2 separate regions of the Homo sapiens genome follow, and region 1 is reported to be linked to region 2. Evidence: microRNA targets listed by miRTarBase, many of them from high-throughput screens and not tested one by one. Region 2 holds a microRNA gene; the other region holds the end of a gene's coding sequence.
Evidence for each region. Region 2 holds the annotated microRNA hsa-miR-149-3p (AGGGAGGGACGGGGGCUGUGC, at 4,815-4,835, shown strand). A microRNA usually pairs through its seed, bases 2 to 8, with sites in the 3' UTR of a target mRNA and lowers its output. Matches are read on the target gene's strand: a 7mer-m8 pairs with bases 2 to 8, a 7mer-A1 pairs with bases 2 to 7 and ends in A, and an 8mer does both.

Region 1 (7,105 bases), not on the chromosome of region 2:
GGGCCGGCCCGTGGGCGCGGCGGGCGGGGGCCTCCTGGGGGGGCTGCCCCGGCTCAACGGGCTCGCGTCGTCCGCCGGCGTTTACTTCGGGCCCGCGGCCGCTGTGGCGCGCGGCTACCCCAAGCCCCTGGCCGAGCTGCCGGGGCGCCCGCCCATCTTCTGGCCCGGCGTGGTGCAGGGCGCGCCCTGGAGGGACCCGCGTCTGGCTGGCCCGGGTGAGTGGCCCGCGCGGGGGGTGCGGGGCGGGTGGGCGCGGAGGGGGACCCCGCCGGCCGCTGACCTCCCTCCCTTCCCCTCCCTTGCAGCCCCGGCCGGCGGCGTCCTGGACAAGGACGGGAAGAAGAAGCACTCGCGCCCGACCTTCTCGGGCCAGCAGATCTTCGCGCTGGAGAAAACCTTCGAGCAGACCAAGTACCTGGCGGGCCCGGAGCGCGCGCGTCTCGCCTACTCGCTGGGCATGACCGAGAGCCAGGTGAAGGTGAGCGCGGCGGGGCTCGGGAGAGCAGAGCCGGGGGCCCGCGTCCTGCGAACGGCCCCAGCGCCAGCCCCGGGCCCCGCGGCCGCCTGACCGCCCCGTCCACTCCCAGGTCTGGTTCCAGAACCGCCGGACCAAGTGGCGCAAGCGGCACGCGGTGGAGATGGCGTCGGCCAAGAAGAAGCAGGACTCGGACGCCGAGAAGCTGAAGGTGGGCGGCTCGGACGCGGAGGACGACGACGAATACAACCGGCCCCTGGACCCCAACTCGGACGACGAGAAGATCACGCGGCTGCTCAAGAAGCACAAACCCTCGAACTTGGCGCTGGTCAGCCCGTGCGGCGGCGGCGCGGGGGACGCCTTGTGAGGACCCGCGGGGTGGGGGCGAATCTATTTTTGCAGAATCCGGGGGCGGCCCCGGGTGGGCGCGAGTCGCTTTGTATCATCAATAAATTATTTAACGGGTCCCCGTCGGAGCCGTCGCTCCGGAGCCTGCGCCGCGTGTTTCTTCCGTCTCGAACCCGGAGCGAGGCGGCCCCTCCCCGGCCCCGGCTTCGCCCCTGCGCCCGCCTCGGGTCCTCCGGGTTCCCGGTGCGGAGGCTGCGGGCCCCGGGCAGGCGCGAGGAGGCGGCGAAGGCGCAGGGAAGGGGCCCGGCCCGCGGGAAGGAACCGCAGCGACAGCCGCCAGGAGCCCGGGACGGAGCCGGGGACGGAGCAGCAGGTACGGCCCGGCCCGCCTCGCCTCGGGGCGGATTCGGACGCGCTTGGGGGTTCCCGAAAGGGCGGGTGAGCCGCGTACCCGCCTCGAGTCCCCGCGGGAGGTTTTTCTTCTTCCGTTTTCCCGCTTTGGGGCCACGTACTCGTTGCCACCGGGCACCCGTTCCCGCTTGGCCGAGGGCTTCGCTCTGATTATTTCCAAAGTCCCTCTGCGCATCAGCGGATCCCATAGGCCCGCCCTGGGCTCAGCCGGTGGAACCGGGTCTGATCCGCTGCACGGAGGCCCTTCGGTCACCATCCCGCCAGATCTTCCCGCGGTGGAAAGCAGTTTCTTCCGAACTAGGACCGCAAAGAGAAATCCGAAATAATTCCGCCCGCGGAGCGGCGGGGCCTCCCGTGGGTCACGCGGGGTCAGGGAGCCGGAGGCCCCCTGGGCAAGGCCCGCAGCGCCCAGCCGGGGGCTCGGGGGACCCGTCTCCTGCCCTGAAATGCCGCCAGCTCCGCGGGGCTGTGACTGCGGCTGACAAAACCCCTCCAGCCTCCCGCAGCCTCTGTGGCCGGGGCTGCCCATCGCTGCATCTTAATGGGCGTGGCTGTTGAGTTTTAATTTTTAAAAATTAAATGTAAATAATGATATCACTGCGGTGGTACGATTTCTCTTGGCATTTGCGGAAGCGTTAAAGGGAAATAGAAAGGGCTTAAACTCGGCGCGTTTTGTTTTAGGCTCTTAGCAGCCTTCTTTACAAGGAAGCAACTCGAAGGGCAGAAGCAACGCTTTTCTGTGGGGAGCCCCTCTCAGCTCAGAGCAGAGGGGCTTCTTAAAGTTTTGAGGAAGGCAAAGCGTTGATATAATCCCGTTTTAAAATGTTGAGGGATAAATCCTTTATTACAGTAGAAAGTCCAAAAGGCTGTGTTTCTCCTCTCAATGAACGGCTTAGTGTTTTGTGACAGCGTGTGATACAGTGAAATTCCAGGATTTCTAATGAGCTTGATCTCAAATAACAGGCTATACAGGAGGCCGCTCCCCTGAGTTAGCATTTCAAAGGTGGCAGGAGAAGGGAAAGGAAGAAAAAGCAACACGGGACTATTTTCACCACGGTCAATTTTATTGCTTAGGAACCAGACCGGTCACTTCCAAAGGCCCCTCAGAACGACCAACAGCTGAAACCCGCGGGGCGGACTCCGTGTTGAACCGCGGACAGCGGCAACCACAGCAGCGACACGGACCTGTGCTTCCACCAAGAACAGATTCCGCAGCGGACAGCAGTCACTTGCAGTGGTAGTATTTATCCCACACAAACACCCAGCTAATGCCTTCACCCGGTCCAGGAACTCTGTAGTGTTCTAAAGTAAAATCAATAAAACATACATTTGTGTTTCATCAACAGACTCTCTAATCACCTTCTAATGCTGTACTTACTGCTATAGGAGAAAAATATTTGCAACAAGGTTATGACATGGGTTGTCTGTAGCGGAGCAATGAGGAAATGTACAGTTTTGTTTCTCTTTAATATTTTTATATACAGCCCATGTTAAAAGCAGTTTCTATTGGAAGCAAACTAGGCTATTTCTATTTCTCCCATGATATTATTGTTGTAACGTAGGATACTTGGCACCATAAAACAGTAACAAAAGACAGACAAACGGTTTACAAAATTCTTAAAAGGTACACCCAGGCTAGCTATAAACTTCACATTCAGTTCTTAATATTACACAGAAGAACGGCATGGGAGTAACGGCCCGCTGGTGCAGACGTGCTGTGGGGCCGATTTTACCCACGATGGCGAGGCCATGTGTGTTTTTTACGAATTTGTGTGTTGATGGACACACAGCTGAGCTCCTAGACTCCAATGCCGCCTGCTGATGGGACTCTCCTGTGCGTTCATACTGGAAAGTATATTTAGCATAAGTTTTGGTAAGATTTATAAATTATTTTTAAAAAGTATATATTTATATATATTTATATATATATAAAAATGGAAAGCAGCTGCAGTGTGATTCAAAAACCATGTGACACGGCGCAGAGTCAGTGCCGCGGAAGGAGCATCGGCAGAGACAGACCCCCTTGCCATGCTCAGGGCCACGCTGCCGGCCGGCAGAGGGAGTGCCCGTCTCGGCTTCCCCAGCCCCTGGACACACCTCCACCTGGCAGAGGGGGTCCCTGGACACAGTGGGGGGTCTCTGTGCTGAAGAAGCCCCTCCACTGGCAATCATTAAAAACTGAAAACTGTGAAGTCTACGGTACAGACCCTCTTTGCTGTCTATTAGAGTTTTGACAACAGGACTGTGACTTATTTAAAAAAAAAAAAAAAAAACCAATATTTCTACTTAATGTCACATAGACAGACGAGACAGTGAGGTATGTGAGGCTGCTCCGGAATGGTCCGGAGGCTGAAGCGAAGTGTGGGGCTGGCCGTCTAGCAGGTGGCGCTTGGGCGGGTTCTCGATGCAGCTTTCAAGAGTGCGTATTCGGTCCACGGCTACAGGGAGGCTCACGAAGTGTCCTCTCGTGGCGCTGGCATCTCTTCCCTGTCACGGAATTCGTAATTTGTTAAAGGAACAAACGCACCAGGAAAAGCTGCGTAAAAGCTGAACTGGAGGGAGGAGTCATATTTACCACCACGTCACTGCACGACACAACACTTGTGCACATGGGCATGAGGTTTACCTGCCCCGGGCATGATTCGGAAGGCCAGGAACACGGGCTGCAGCAGGAAGAGAGGACGGTGTCAGCACGGCGCACGCGGGACAGCACAGCACATGCCGCCGCCTCCCGTTGCACCCCCAGACCCTGCGTCTCACCAGGGCAGCCATGAACCGGGCTGGGAGGAGCTGATGGCCAGCAGAGGCAGCTCGGCCCTTGTGCACAGCCACGGCAGCGCAGGGGTTGGGGGCCCCGTGAATGTGGAACTGGAGCCAGGCCGGCCATGAGAGGTTTTGCAAGGAAGGTGTTATTTCCAGGTAAAAAAATTAATGGAAAAACTGATGTAAAAGAATGGCTAAATAGGCCCCAAATGAAGCGGGGAAGGAAGGCTCTCCCGTCCTCGGCTCTGCCGCACCTGGCAGGTCCAGCGTCTTATCCGGGTGTGTTTGGGGCTCACAGCTCTGGGCCTCCAACGTGGAAGAAGCTAACTCATTTATTGGCTGAAAATGAGATTTGATCTGTCTCCTGTGCACACTCTCGAGGTGCAGTTGCCTGAATAAACGATCTGTGCCAGTGCTGCCCCTTGGCACACGGTGGGGAGCGCCCTCACCCCGGCTCCTCGGCTGACAGTGAGCCTGCCCCAAGAAGGCCATTAAAACACTGAAGCTGCATATTTGCAAAACAGCCTTCAGAAACAATCAGCTGTGGACATTTTTTTACAAATATTAAATTATGTATTTTATTCTATTGTAACGTCATTTCTGCCTTCTTCCTACTTACCCACCTAGCTTATGATATTTTATTAAAATTAAATAAAAACAGACCAACTTGGCCTACTCTGTAGTCAGACTAAGAAGACAGGAGAACAGGAGAGGAGAGACTGGCCAACCCCCGCCCACCTGCCTGCCAGCCCCAGCACCCGCCCACCCACTGGCCCCAGCCCCCCGGCCCCCTAGCTTCCCCTTGGTCCCCCAGCCTGGCCCCTGGACCTCAGTCTATGTCACCTTGTGGTCTCCCATGCAGACGTTGGGCCCAATGTGGTCATAGGTGACAACCTTCTCCTCGCTCTCCGACTGGAAAGGGGAAACAGACAGGTGAGTGTGGGGAGGTGGGGCACCCTGGGTCCAGTTGGGAGCTGACTGGCAGGAACATCAGGGTTTTGTGGGGGCAGAGAGATGGGGATGTCGGCCCCTGCCAGTACCTCCCCAGCCTCTGCCACCCGCCCTGCCTGGCCCCTGAGAGAGAGGCCAGCTCATGGACCAAAGGCTCTGGTGATGTGGCAGCGCCTCAGCACCTTGACCCTGGCCCTTTTGGACAACAGGTATCTGCCTCTAGGAGGGGTCGCGTGGGGAGCCGCGGGTGCTGGCCCGGCTCCCAAGCTCCCCTCTCCCGGACATGCTCCTGGGCTCTCAGGGGAGTTGCAGGGGACCCTGTTCACAGGAGTGTGTGCGCCCCAGCTTTCTGTGCAGGTGTGCTCCTCTGAGTGCGGCAGCCCATCTAGTTCCAATCTTCCCACTTTGATTTGTTTTTGACTGTTCTATTAACCTAGAACTCAGTGTTCAAACGAGAACAGACACCGAATTCCACACCACTACACAAAGCAATCTGTGCACAGTAATTCACGGCTGTGTGCGCACTTCCCAGCAGGTGCCTGTATTCCGGGCGCCTCCGGAAGGGGTTTGCTGCTGGTCAGCACTCGGCTCTGGTTGGGCTGGAATTTTATATCCACAGCTGGAGCATCTGAGACTATCCAGGTAAAACTGAGTTATCTTTAATGCAGTGGGAAGCTCAAGGTCAGATTTACTTTCCAGCATGGGCGCCTGCCAGAAAGAATGAGAAAACAAGCTTCGGCACCGCATGCATGAGCACCTTCCCGCCTCTCGCGGGTGAAGCGGCGCCTCCGCAGAAGTGGAGAAACATTCATCAAACGCAGCGTGGTAATTTACAAAGGCAGCATAAAATTGTGGATTTTCAACTGCATAATCTTTGGACAGATAAACAAATTACGGCGGGCACAGGCAGCGTGCGGCACACCTCACTGAACACTTGTCACCGAGGCTCCCCAAGCAGCACCGCCCGCGTCCCGAGCCCCTTTTGGTGTTTTAGGGCTCCGGAGGCAGAACGGAGCTTGGTGACGAGGTGACGGCGCGTGTCATGATGGATGAGGCTGCGGAGCGCGCCCGGCGCCCGTCTGCTTGTCCTGCACACCCGCTGCCCACTGGGTGGCCCCATGGGGAGAGCCTGTCCAAACTCCAGCCCCAGAAGGCAGGGGCTGTCAAAGGCCGCCAGGTGTGTGTTGTGAGGCTCTGTCCCCCACCCTGAGCATAAAGTGTCAAGTCCCGGATCCAGAGAACCCGAGAGGCTGTGAGTGAATGGAAAACGGGCTGCAACGCTGCCCTGCTCTGAGCTGGTGGAGCCCTGGCAGCGGCAGCACAATGTGGGGAGGCCACAGCCCTGCCAGCCTTCTGCCCTTGGGCGCTGCTCACCAATCTGCACTCGCGTGACCTCCGACGTTTTCCCAGGGGATGGCATCTGTGCCCGAGTCCCCGGGAGGCTCCTGCCCCGCTGGTGGCAGCCCTGGGCTCCACATGCCTGACCCGCTCTCAGCACTGGCAGATGGGAGCACCCACCATGTGGCACCGAGGGACTGGCGTGCCTACCAGTGAGCCCAGCCAGAGGGGCAGTGGCAGGTCCACAGCCAGGCTCCAGGCCGAGCCCACTCCTGGGCTTTTGGGCTTGTGGCCAGCACACTTTCCTCAATGATGGGCACAGGCCCTGCCCACAGGCCAGAGGTGGGGCTGCGGAGGAGCCAGGCTGGCTGCAGACCCCAGGGACTTCTGGCCAAGGGGCCCCGCCTCCAGCCCAGGCCCCCACCAGGCAGGCTCCTCACAGCACAGCCAGGGACGGAGGGCAGGCTGCACCCAGGGTGCTCCAGGATGTAGGAAGGAACAGTAAGGAACCCGGCCCGGCAGACAGAGCCACATGGCAGAGGCCAGCAGGGTGCATCTCAGGGACCAGGGCTGCAGAGGTCCCCGCCCTGCTGAGGGCACACCTGTACCCAGGTGTTTGCTGTGCCTGGGGTCTGGTGCCGTCTGGCACAGACACAGATGGGCAGTGAGGGACAACTGGAGCCTCACACAGCTGGTGTTGAAGTCGGGGTTAGTAGGGGGCTCCTGTCCCTGCTCTGGGCCTGGGACAGTGGAGAGGGGGCAGAGCCCACCAGGCTGGCAGTGGAACCACCAGAGTCTCCAGCCTCCTTCCGATTGCAC
Region 2 (7,112 bases):
CATTCACGGGGCAGATGGACGGGCCTGCGCGGCGTCTTTGTGGACTGGAATGTGGCTGCTGCGTCCCCTTCTGCGTTTCTAGCGTGCCCCCTGTGGGTGTAGCAGACAGGGAGGGCCAGTCCATCTTCCAGGCCTCCTTGGGTGCCTGTGGCCCCTGCAGTGGGTGTACGGGAAGCTAGATGGGAGAGCTGGGCAGAGCCCCAGGAGGACAACCCCACCCTCCCACAGCCTGCCTGAATTTCCACCCTGCTGGCAGGGTTGGGCATAGAGATGTGAGTGCCCTCTTCAGCTCCACCAAGCCAAGGAGGAGAAAGGCTGAGCCAGGCCTGGGGGCACGGCCTCTGGGGAGCACCTCATCCTGGGTTCGAAGAGTGGGCTCTGCCTTACAGCCAAGACACCGGGTCCTGGGTGTGGCAGGAGGTTCGTGACACAAATTCTGAATCCCCTTTCATCCCCAGTCTGAGGCCACAGCATGAGCCTCAGACAGTGGAGCAGGCTGGCATGGGGGGAGGCCTGCACAGGGCACGCGGCTTCTTGGCCCGAGCTGTGACTAGGCTCCCATCTGATGGACCCCTGCCGTCGTGCCATGCCAGGGCCGGCACCGCCCAGACCTGGCGTCTGCCGGCAGGATGGCCTGCTCAGGGGTTCCCCAAGCAGGATCTGGGCAGCTTAGAGAGCAGTCTTATGAGTTGCCTGGTGAAAGCCCCGTCTTTGGGGGTCTCCGGTGTTGTGGCCTGCCTTGGTGGTCTGTCCAGCAGCTCTCAGTGTGCCCATTGCAGACCGGCCGAGAGGCCGGAGTGCGGCCAGAGGGGAACTGGTGTGAGTGGGTGGTTTTGTCTGGCTGGGTCAGCAGGCCTGGGGAAGGTGGGGAGCTGGGCCGGGACAGTGGGAGCCACGCAGGACCTGGGCTGCAGGGAGGGGAGGGTGTTGGCGGGAGGCTGTCCCTCTGGTGTCCAAGGAGGGGCCAGAGGCGCACAGCATAGACCTCCCAGGCTGGGGGCACCTGGGTGGGAGACTTGGTGGAAGGATGTGGCCTGTTGGGTTTGGTATGTCAGAGGGAAAGCAGGTCAGGATATAGGGGCAGGGGGGTCTGGAGTCAAGGCCCGGGTGCCATTGGACTGGGGGCTGGAGGGGGCAGGTAGAGGATGTGGAATGACCATGGCAGCTTTGCGTGAGGACAGCGGTGGTCAGCTGCCACCTTCAGCACAGAGAGAAACCCGACACCCCGCCCCCATTACCCTCCGGGGAGGGGCCCCGGCTCCCCCGAGCGCCGGCCCTGCTGAGACCCAGGAGCCCCTGCACCAAGGCCTGGGCCCGCTTAGCTGCAGTGGGGAGCCTAGGAGGCCCGGACTGCCCGCGGAGAACAGGAGCAGCACCCGCAGGCGGGAGGGAGGGGCCCGGCCTCGGCGGCGGGCAGGAAGGCGGGCGCAGGGCGGCGGGGACCTGGCCGGAGGGGCCGGGGCGGCCGCCTGCGGTTTCCAGGGAGACGGGGGCGGTGCCGAGCGCGGCGGGGCGGGGGCTGCGGGAGGACGCTCGTCCCCGCGCCGGGAGCCACCGCCCTCGGCCGTGCGCGCCAGTGCGGCTGCGGCGCTGCCCGGGGTGGCTGCGGCCAGAGTCTCCCGCGCGCCCGGCGGACCGCAGCCCGCCCTCGTCCCCCGCTGGCTTTTCGCCTCCTGCGAGCCCTTCCGCCCGGCCCCGCTCCGCCGCCTTTCCCCGGCCCGAGCACCTGCACCCAGAGCCCGCGCGCCGCCCGGAGCCGCTGGAGCCGCCGCTGCGAAGGGGGTCCCGCGTCCGCCGCCGCGCTGGAAGCCAGGCCCGAGGACCTCTCCCGCAGCGCCACCGTACCCGCATCCGCAGGCGCGCCACCCCCATCTCCACCCGCTCCTCGTCCCCACCGCCTCTGTCCCATCCTCCGCTCCGTCCTGCCCCGCTTGGCCGCCGCAGCCCCATCCCCTTTCCGCCCCTCCTGTCGGGAGTCCGTGGCCCGTCCCCAGTCCCACCCCACCCGTCGCCCCAGCTGCACCTACCCCTACCCCTCCCGGGCCGCATCCCGGCGTCCCCGCCCCGCTCCCACCGCCCGCCCCGCTCCCACCGCCCGCCCCGCTCCCACCGCCCGCCCCGCTCCCTCCGCCCGCCCCGCTCCCTCCGCCCGCCCCGCTCCCTCCGCCCGCCCCGCTCCCTCCGCCCGCCCCGCTCCCTCCGCCCGCCCCGCTCCCGCATCGCCTGCCGCCGCCCCGGGGCCCCCCTTCCTCTTCCGCCAGGCCCATCCCCCTCCCCGGGCCGTCGCAGCCCTTCGAGCCCCCTCCCCCACCCCCGTGCCTGCCGCACCCGCTGCGACAAGCCCCTTCCCCGCCAATCGCGGCGCCCCCCTCCCCTCGCCTGCCCGCCGCAGCCCCCTCTCCCCGCCCGCCCCCTTCCCTCCCCGCCGCGCCCACTGCACCAGTGCCCCCTCCTCGCCGGGCCGCCGGCGCTGCTGCGTGTCCAGACCCCTGCGCACCCGCTCCGGCTGCGCGGTTTGCCGTCTTCGTCCCTGGCCGCGGCGGCTGGCGACTGGCATCGGGGCGCCCGGGACCCCCAGGGCGGCGACGCTGCCGCCGGTGCCGCCGAGCCTTTGTTCCGCCGCCGGGGCCGGTTTCACGCCTGTCGCCCTCGCAAGCAGCCGCGGGTGACAGGAGCCTTAGCCGGCCTGGGGCGCGGACCCTCCCACCCGGGGCAGAGGTGTCCCTACGACGCCCCTCGGTTTCGGGTCGCAGTGCGCGGCGGAGGTTCTGCGGCGGCGGAGGGGCTCCTTGGCGACGCTGTCATTTGGGTGAAATGGTGGCGGGGGGGCTTCGGGCAGACGGCAGGGGTGTGGGGAGGGGAGGGAAGCACGATGGGGTGAGTCTGGGGGCCGTGGATGCCGTTGACGAGGAGCTGAGATGCCGTGGCCGGTCCACCTCGCAGGTGGGGCCAAGGCTGCCTCTGGCTCAGACGTCAGGAGCCCAGGCGGACAGGGACTGGCCAGGGGCGCAGGCTTCTTAGAGGATGGGGCAAAAGTGAGGAAAAGATCCTCTGCAGCCTGGGCAGTGGGTGGTCCCCAGGAAACCCCCTGGGTCGTTTGTCCAGTGCACCCTCACCCCAGGAGGCTGCTGGACGTGCCGGAGGATGCCACAGCCACCGGAGCTGGTTGGGGTCCGAGAGCAGATGGGCCAGGGGCTGGGGCAGGCTTCGAGAAGAGGGTTCGGGCTTGGGGAAAGCCTTCGCAGCCATCGGCCAGCCAGGAAGGCCCCGTTGCCGGGTGCAGAGCTGAGTAGAGGGCAGGAGCGGGGAGGCCTAGGCTCTTCCCTTGCGTGTTGGGGGGCTGCGGTGCCTGGAGCTCTGCACACAGCCCTACTCCAGCACCGTGGGAGGCAATGCAGGCTGACTGTCCACGCCAAATTCCGGTACCTTAGGCATTCGAGTCTGTTGACACTGAGTGTCTAGGACGAGGCTGTAAAGGTGGATAAAGCCGGCTTTACAGTCTGCACCTCCTGTGTGAGCCGTGGAAGCTTCTGGAGGGATGGGCGTGGCGTGGCGCCATCATCTCTCTGCATTCTCCTTGGGAGGGCTCCAGAGCCACTGGTCACGGGCAGCTGCCAGGCTGGGTCTGGACAAATGAGGTCTGGGTCCATCATTGGGGATGGGGGCCACTGTCAGGATGGGAGTCTCGCCTAAAGCTTTGGGGTGAAGGTGCTGATGACCAAGAGGAAACTGCGGGGTGGGGACATGTCAGCAGGGGACGAGAATGCATGACCTAAAAGGTATCCAAAGTTAAGGCTGGTGGGGGCTTAGTGAGGAGCAGCAGAGTGGGGTGGTCCAGAACCGTCAGGATCGGGAGGGGGAAGATGGAACGAGACAGCAGCTGCCTACGAGCCAGGGAGCAAGAGCTCTGTGCTTTAACCTGAGGAGCAGGAGCCTGGGAACTGGAGACTCTGGGTTTGAGGTGGGGGATGAATCTGCCATTAAACAAATAATCCCCTTCCCCCCCAAAAAAATCCTCAGAGCACTGGGGAAGGGAAGTGTCCCAGTGACTGAGGGAGGGGAGCGCTGTGGAAGGATGGGTCGGCTACAGCAACTTCAGCCCAGGGATCAGGGAAGAGAGGGTCCAGTCCCTGGCCCAGCGGGGAGCAGGCCCGGTGACCTTGACCTGAGCAGCCCCAGGGCCAGAGGGAGGGGTGGGCCGGAAGGGCCCAGATGCCTCCCTGCACGGGGGGAAGGGGATGGGCTGCCGGGACTCACCCCCTAGGTTGGAAAATGCCTCCCTCTGGGTTGGAGGAGGAGAAAGGCCAGGAAGGAGAGGGAGAGGGACATGGGGAGGGTTCCCTCCTGGCCTGAGGCCTCTCTATCCCCAGGTGTTGAGCTGAGAGAAGTGGTGGGGAGGCCCCTGGGGGTGGGGAGGCCCCTGGGTGGGGAGATTTAAGATGACAGCTGGTCTTGGGCACATTGCTCTCCATTCAGAAAGGCCCCAGCCCCTGGCATTCTTCCAGGAGGGGGCTTGCTTTGCCGCCCTGCAGGGGGACTCTGCAGAGCCGGCCTCTGCCATCTCATGTCCAGGACCACAACCTGTGGCCCCGGCCTGCGCCGGGCCGGAGCTCCGCAGAAGGAAGCCAGCGGGAGGCCTCCTGCCTTTGACTGCCGTGCGTCCAGCCTGCAGCGGGCCTCAGGGGGCCGCCTCGATCCAGCCTGCCCGAGGCTCCCAGGCCTTCGCCCGCCTTGCGTCCAGCCTGCCGGGGGCTCCCAGGCCGGCGCCCGAGCTCTGGCTCCGTGTCTTCACTCCCGTGCTTGTCCGAGGAGGGAGGGAGGGACGGGGGCTGTGCTGGGGCAGCTGGAACAACGCAGGTCGCCGGGCCGGCTGGGCGAGTTGGCCGGGCGGGGCTGAGGGGTCGGCGGGGGAGGCTGAGGCGCGGGGGCCGGTGCGCGGCCGTGAGGGGGTGTGAGAGGTGGCTGACGGCGCCGAGGAGCCCCTCAGAACCTGCAGGTGGGGGGAGCTCCCATATCTTACGGGTGTTTCGGGCCTCACCTCTCCATGCCTCTCGTCAGCCTCTCCCGTCTGCGTGGTGGGGGCTGGGGAGTGGGTCCGCCGGGACCTCGCGAGGGAGGGGCACAGGAGGAGCCGGCGGGGGACGCCACCCACCCTCCTCCCTAGGAGTGCTTGAGCCCTAGTCCTGAGTCTTGGACCAGCTCACTCGGTTCCTGTGGCCCAGCCAGCCTGGCCTGGGTGCCCCGTCACAGCTGAGCCCATCTCAGCTGAGCCCAGGGTGTGTCACCGGGAAGCTCAGCTGGCACCTGCCACCCCCTCCCCCAGGCACGTTTCCCTCCCACTGCCCAGCCCATTACCATCATGTGTCCGGCTGACCTGTGCTCTCCTGGTCTGGGCAGCCTGGATGGGTGCACAGGGCCCCATCACAGCCCACACCCTCGGAGAGACGCCTCCTGAGTCTGCTCAGCCTGGCACAGGCCCCAGGAAAGGACCCGGAGGGGCGGTTCCTGCTCTAAATCCTGCCCCCACGGGGGTGGGACTGGGGCAGAATCCCATCAGTGAATAAAGGCTGCAGAGTGAAGGATGGTCCCTGGCGAGTGTACCTGTGTCCCAGTCTTCTTGCCTGAGGGCGCCTTCCCACCCATGTGAGGAGTGGGGAAGGAGCACCCCTTCTCTACTAGGCCCCAGGGCTCTCAGAGCCGGGCTCTGTCCTCACCCCAGCTGGCTCCCACAAGGCCCTCCTGGCCCCAGACTCTGTTGGACCCCCAACTCCCCCTCCAGCAGGCATCTGGAGGTAAGGAGGGGCGGGGGGCGCAGGTGCACTTGCCATTCCCGCTCTGTCTGCAGCATGGGCACATGTAAGTCCAGGCCCTGGGGAATCCCTGGACCTGCAGCCCCTGCGGAGGACTCCCTCCCCCTCTAGCTCAAGCCAGAGCCCCCTGCATCAGTACATTCCAGAACTCAGACAGGAAAAGAGGGCAAGGAGGGAGCGCTCCAGGATAAGAACCCCTACCTCGGCCCTCCCTCGCTCTCCCAGGCCCCTCTGACAACCTGTCTCCTTGCTGTCATGTCAGCAGGCACAGAGGCTACAGGGGCCAAGCGGCAGCCGCCCAAGCCCGGATTCGGGTTCTCTGTTCCCTTCTCTTGTCTCGGGCTCCTCCCTGAGTGTGTGTACTTAGAGGGTGCGGAAGATCAGCAAACTCAGTCTGACCCAGGCATTCAACCTCTGGGTAGTTACCTAGTCCTGGGTCCCCACCCCAGATGGCCTCTAGTGGGTAAGGGCTTCCTGGACCCCAGGCCTGAGGGGTGACTTCTCTTGCAGTAAGCGGGTAGGGCACTGCCTGCGCTGCTCCAGGCCCTGCCTGCAGTGGGGCTACAGATCCCTGCTCCCACCTCCAGGCAGGGCTGGAGCTGCTGCCAGCTCCCCCAGGACAGCCTCGAGCCAGGTGCCTCTGCCCGGGCTGACCCCGCCCTCGGTCCCGGTCCTGGCTCCCTCTCCTGCCTCTCCTCCCTGGCCTGGCCTTCACTTCCTGCTGACCCTCAGGAGGGCGTAAAAGAATGCAGGACCTGCTGCATTCCAGCCACCCTGGCCCAGGGTCCCAGAACAGGATGAGACAGGCCCCTGAGGCGGCAGTCCTGAGGAAAGTTGCTGGAATTCCTGCTGACAACGCCCCCCCTTGACCCCACCCCTCTGACCAAGCCAGGCTCCTGCTTCCACCTCTCCACTGTGCCTGACCTAGGCCAGCACCAGGAGGGCCTTAGAGGCGGGGGACGAGGCCCAGAAGGAACAGTGTGGCCCCGTCAGTGTGGAGTCCTGAGCTTAGGCAGCCGGAACCACTTGCCCCCTCACTGTATAGCTGGGACGAGACCTCATCCCTGTAAGCCCCGGTTTTCTGGTTAATAAAATGAGGATTGCGGCAGCCTTCATCACAGTGCGATGCACACCCTTTAAAAAATGCAGTTTTTCCTGATGCCACACACCCATTCCAGGTGGGCCCTGAGGTGTGCACAGCAGGGCTGAGAGCTGACTCAAAGCCTGTCCTGTCCCCACTCCCCACAAGGAGGTGAAGCTGTCTCTGATGGCAGTGCCGCTGTCACTGCCTCGGACGCTGGA

Region 1: miRTarBase lists NKX6-2 as a target of hsa-miR-149-3p. Seed matches in the 3' UTR shown: 7mer-m8 at 1,012-1,018.

Annotation. Positions count from the first base shown.
Region 1 is chr10:132,778,653-132,785,757 of GRCh38, reverse strand. NKX6-2 (NK6 homeobox 2) reads left to right here. Exons shown (of 3, transcript NM_177400.3): 1 at 1-215; 2 at 306-478; 3 at 588-2,577. The coding sequence ends at 842. INPP5A (inositol polyphosphate-5-phosphatase A) reads right to left here. Exons shown (of 16, transcript NM_005539.5): 14 at 4,841-4,909; 15 at 3,810-3,897; 16 at 2,278-3,721. The coding sequence ends at 3,817. Among named protein-coding and RNA genes, the nearest start is that of NKX6-2, 3.9 kb to the left of the region's middle.
Region 2 is chr2:240,451,242-240,458,353 of GRCh38, forward strand. MIR149 (microRNA 149) reads left to right here and starts at 4,760; the gene lies at 4,760-4,848. The region is part of intron 1 of GPC1 (glypican 1); the gene reads left to right. GPC1-AS1 (GPC1 antisense RNA 1) reads right to left here and starts at 5,459. Exons shown (of 3, transcript NR_161169.1): 1 at 5,356-5,459. RefSeq lists a silencer at 1,515-1,564 and enhancers at 4,060-4,710, 6,663-7,112.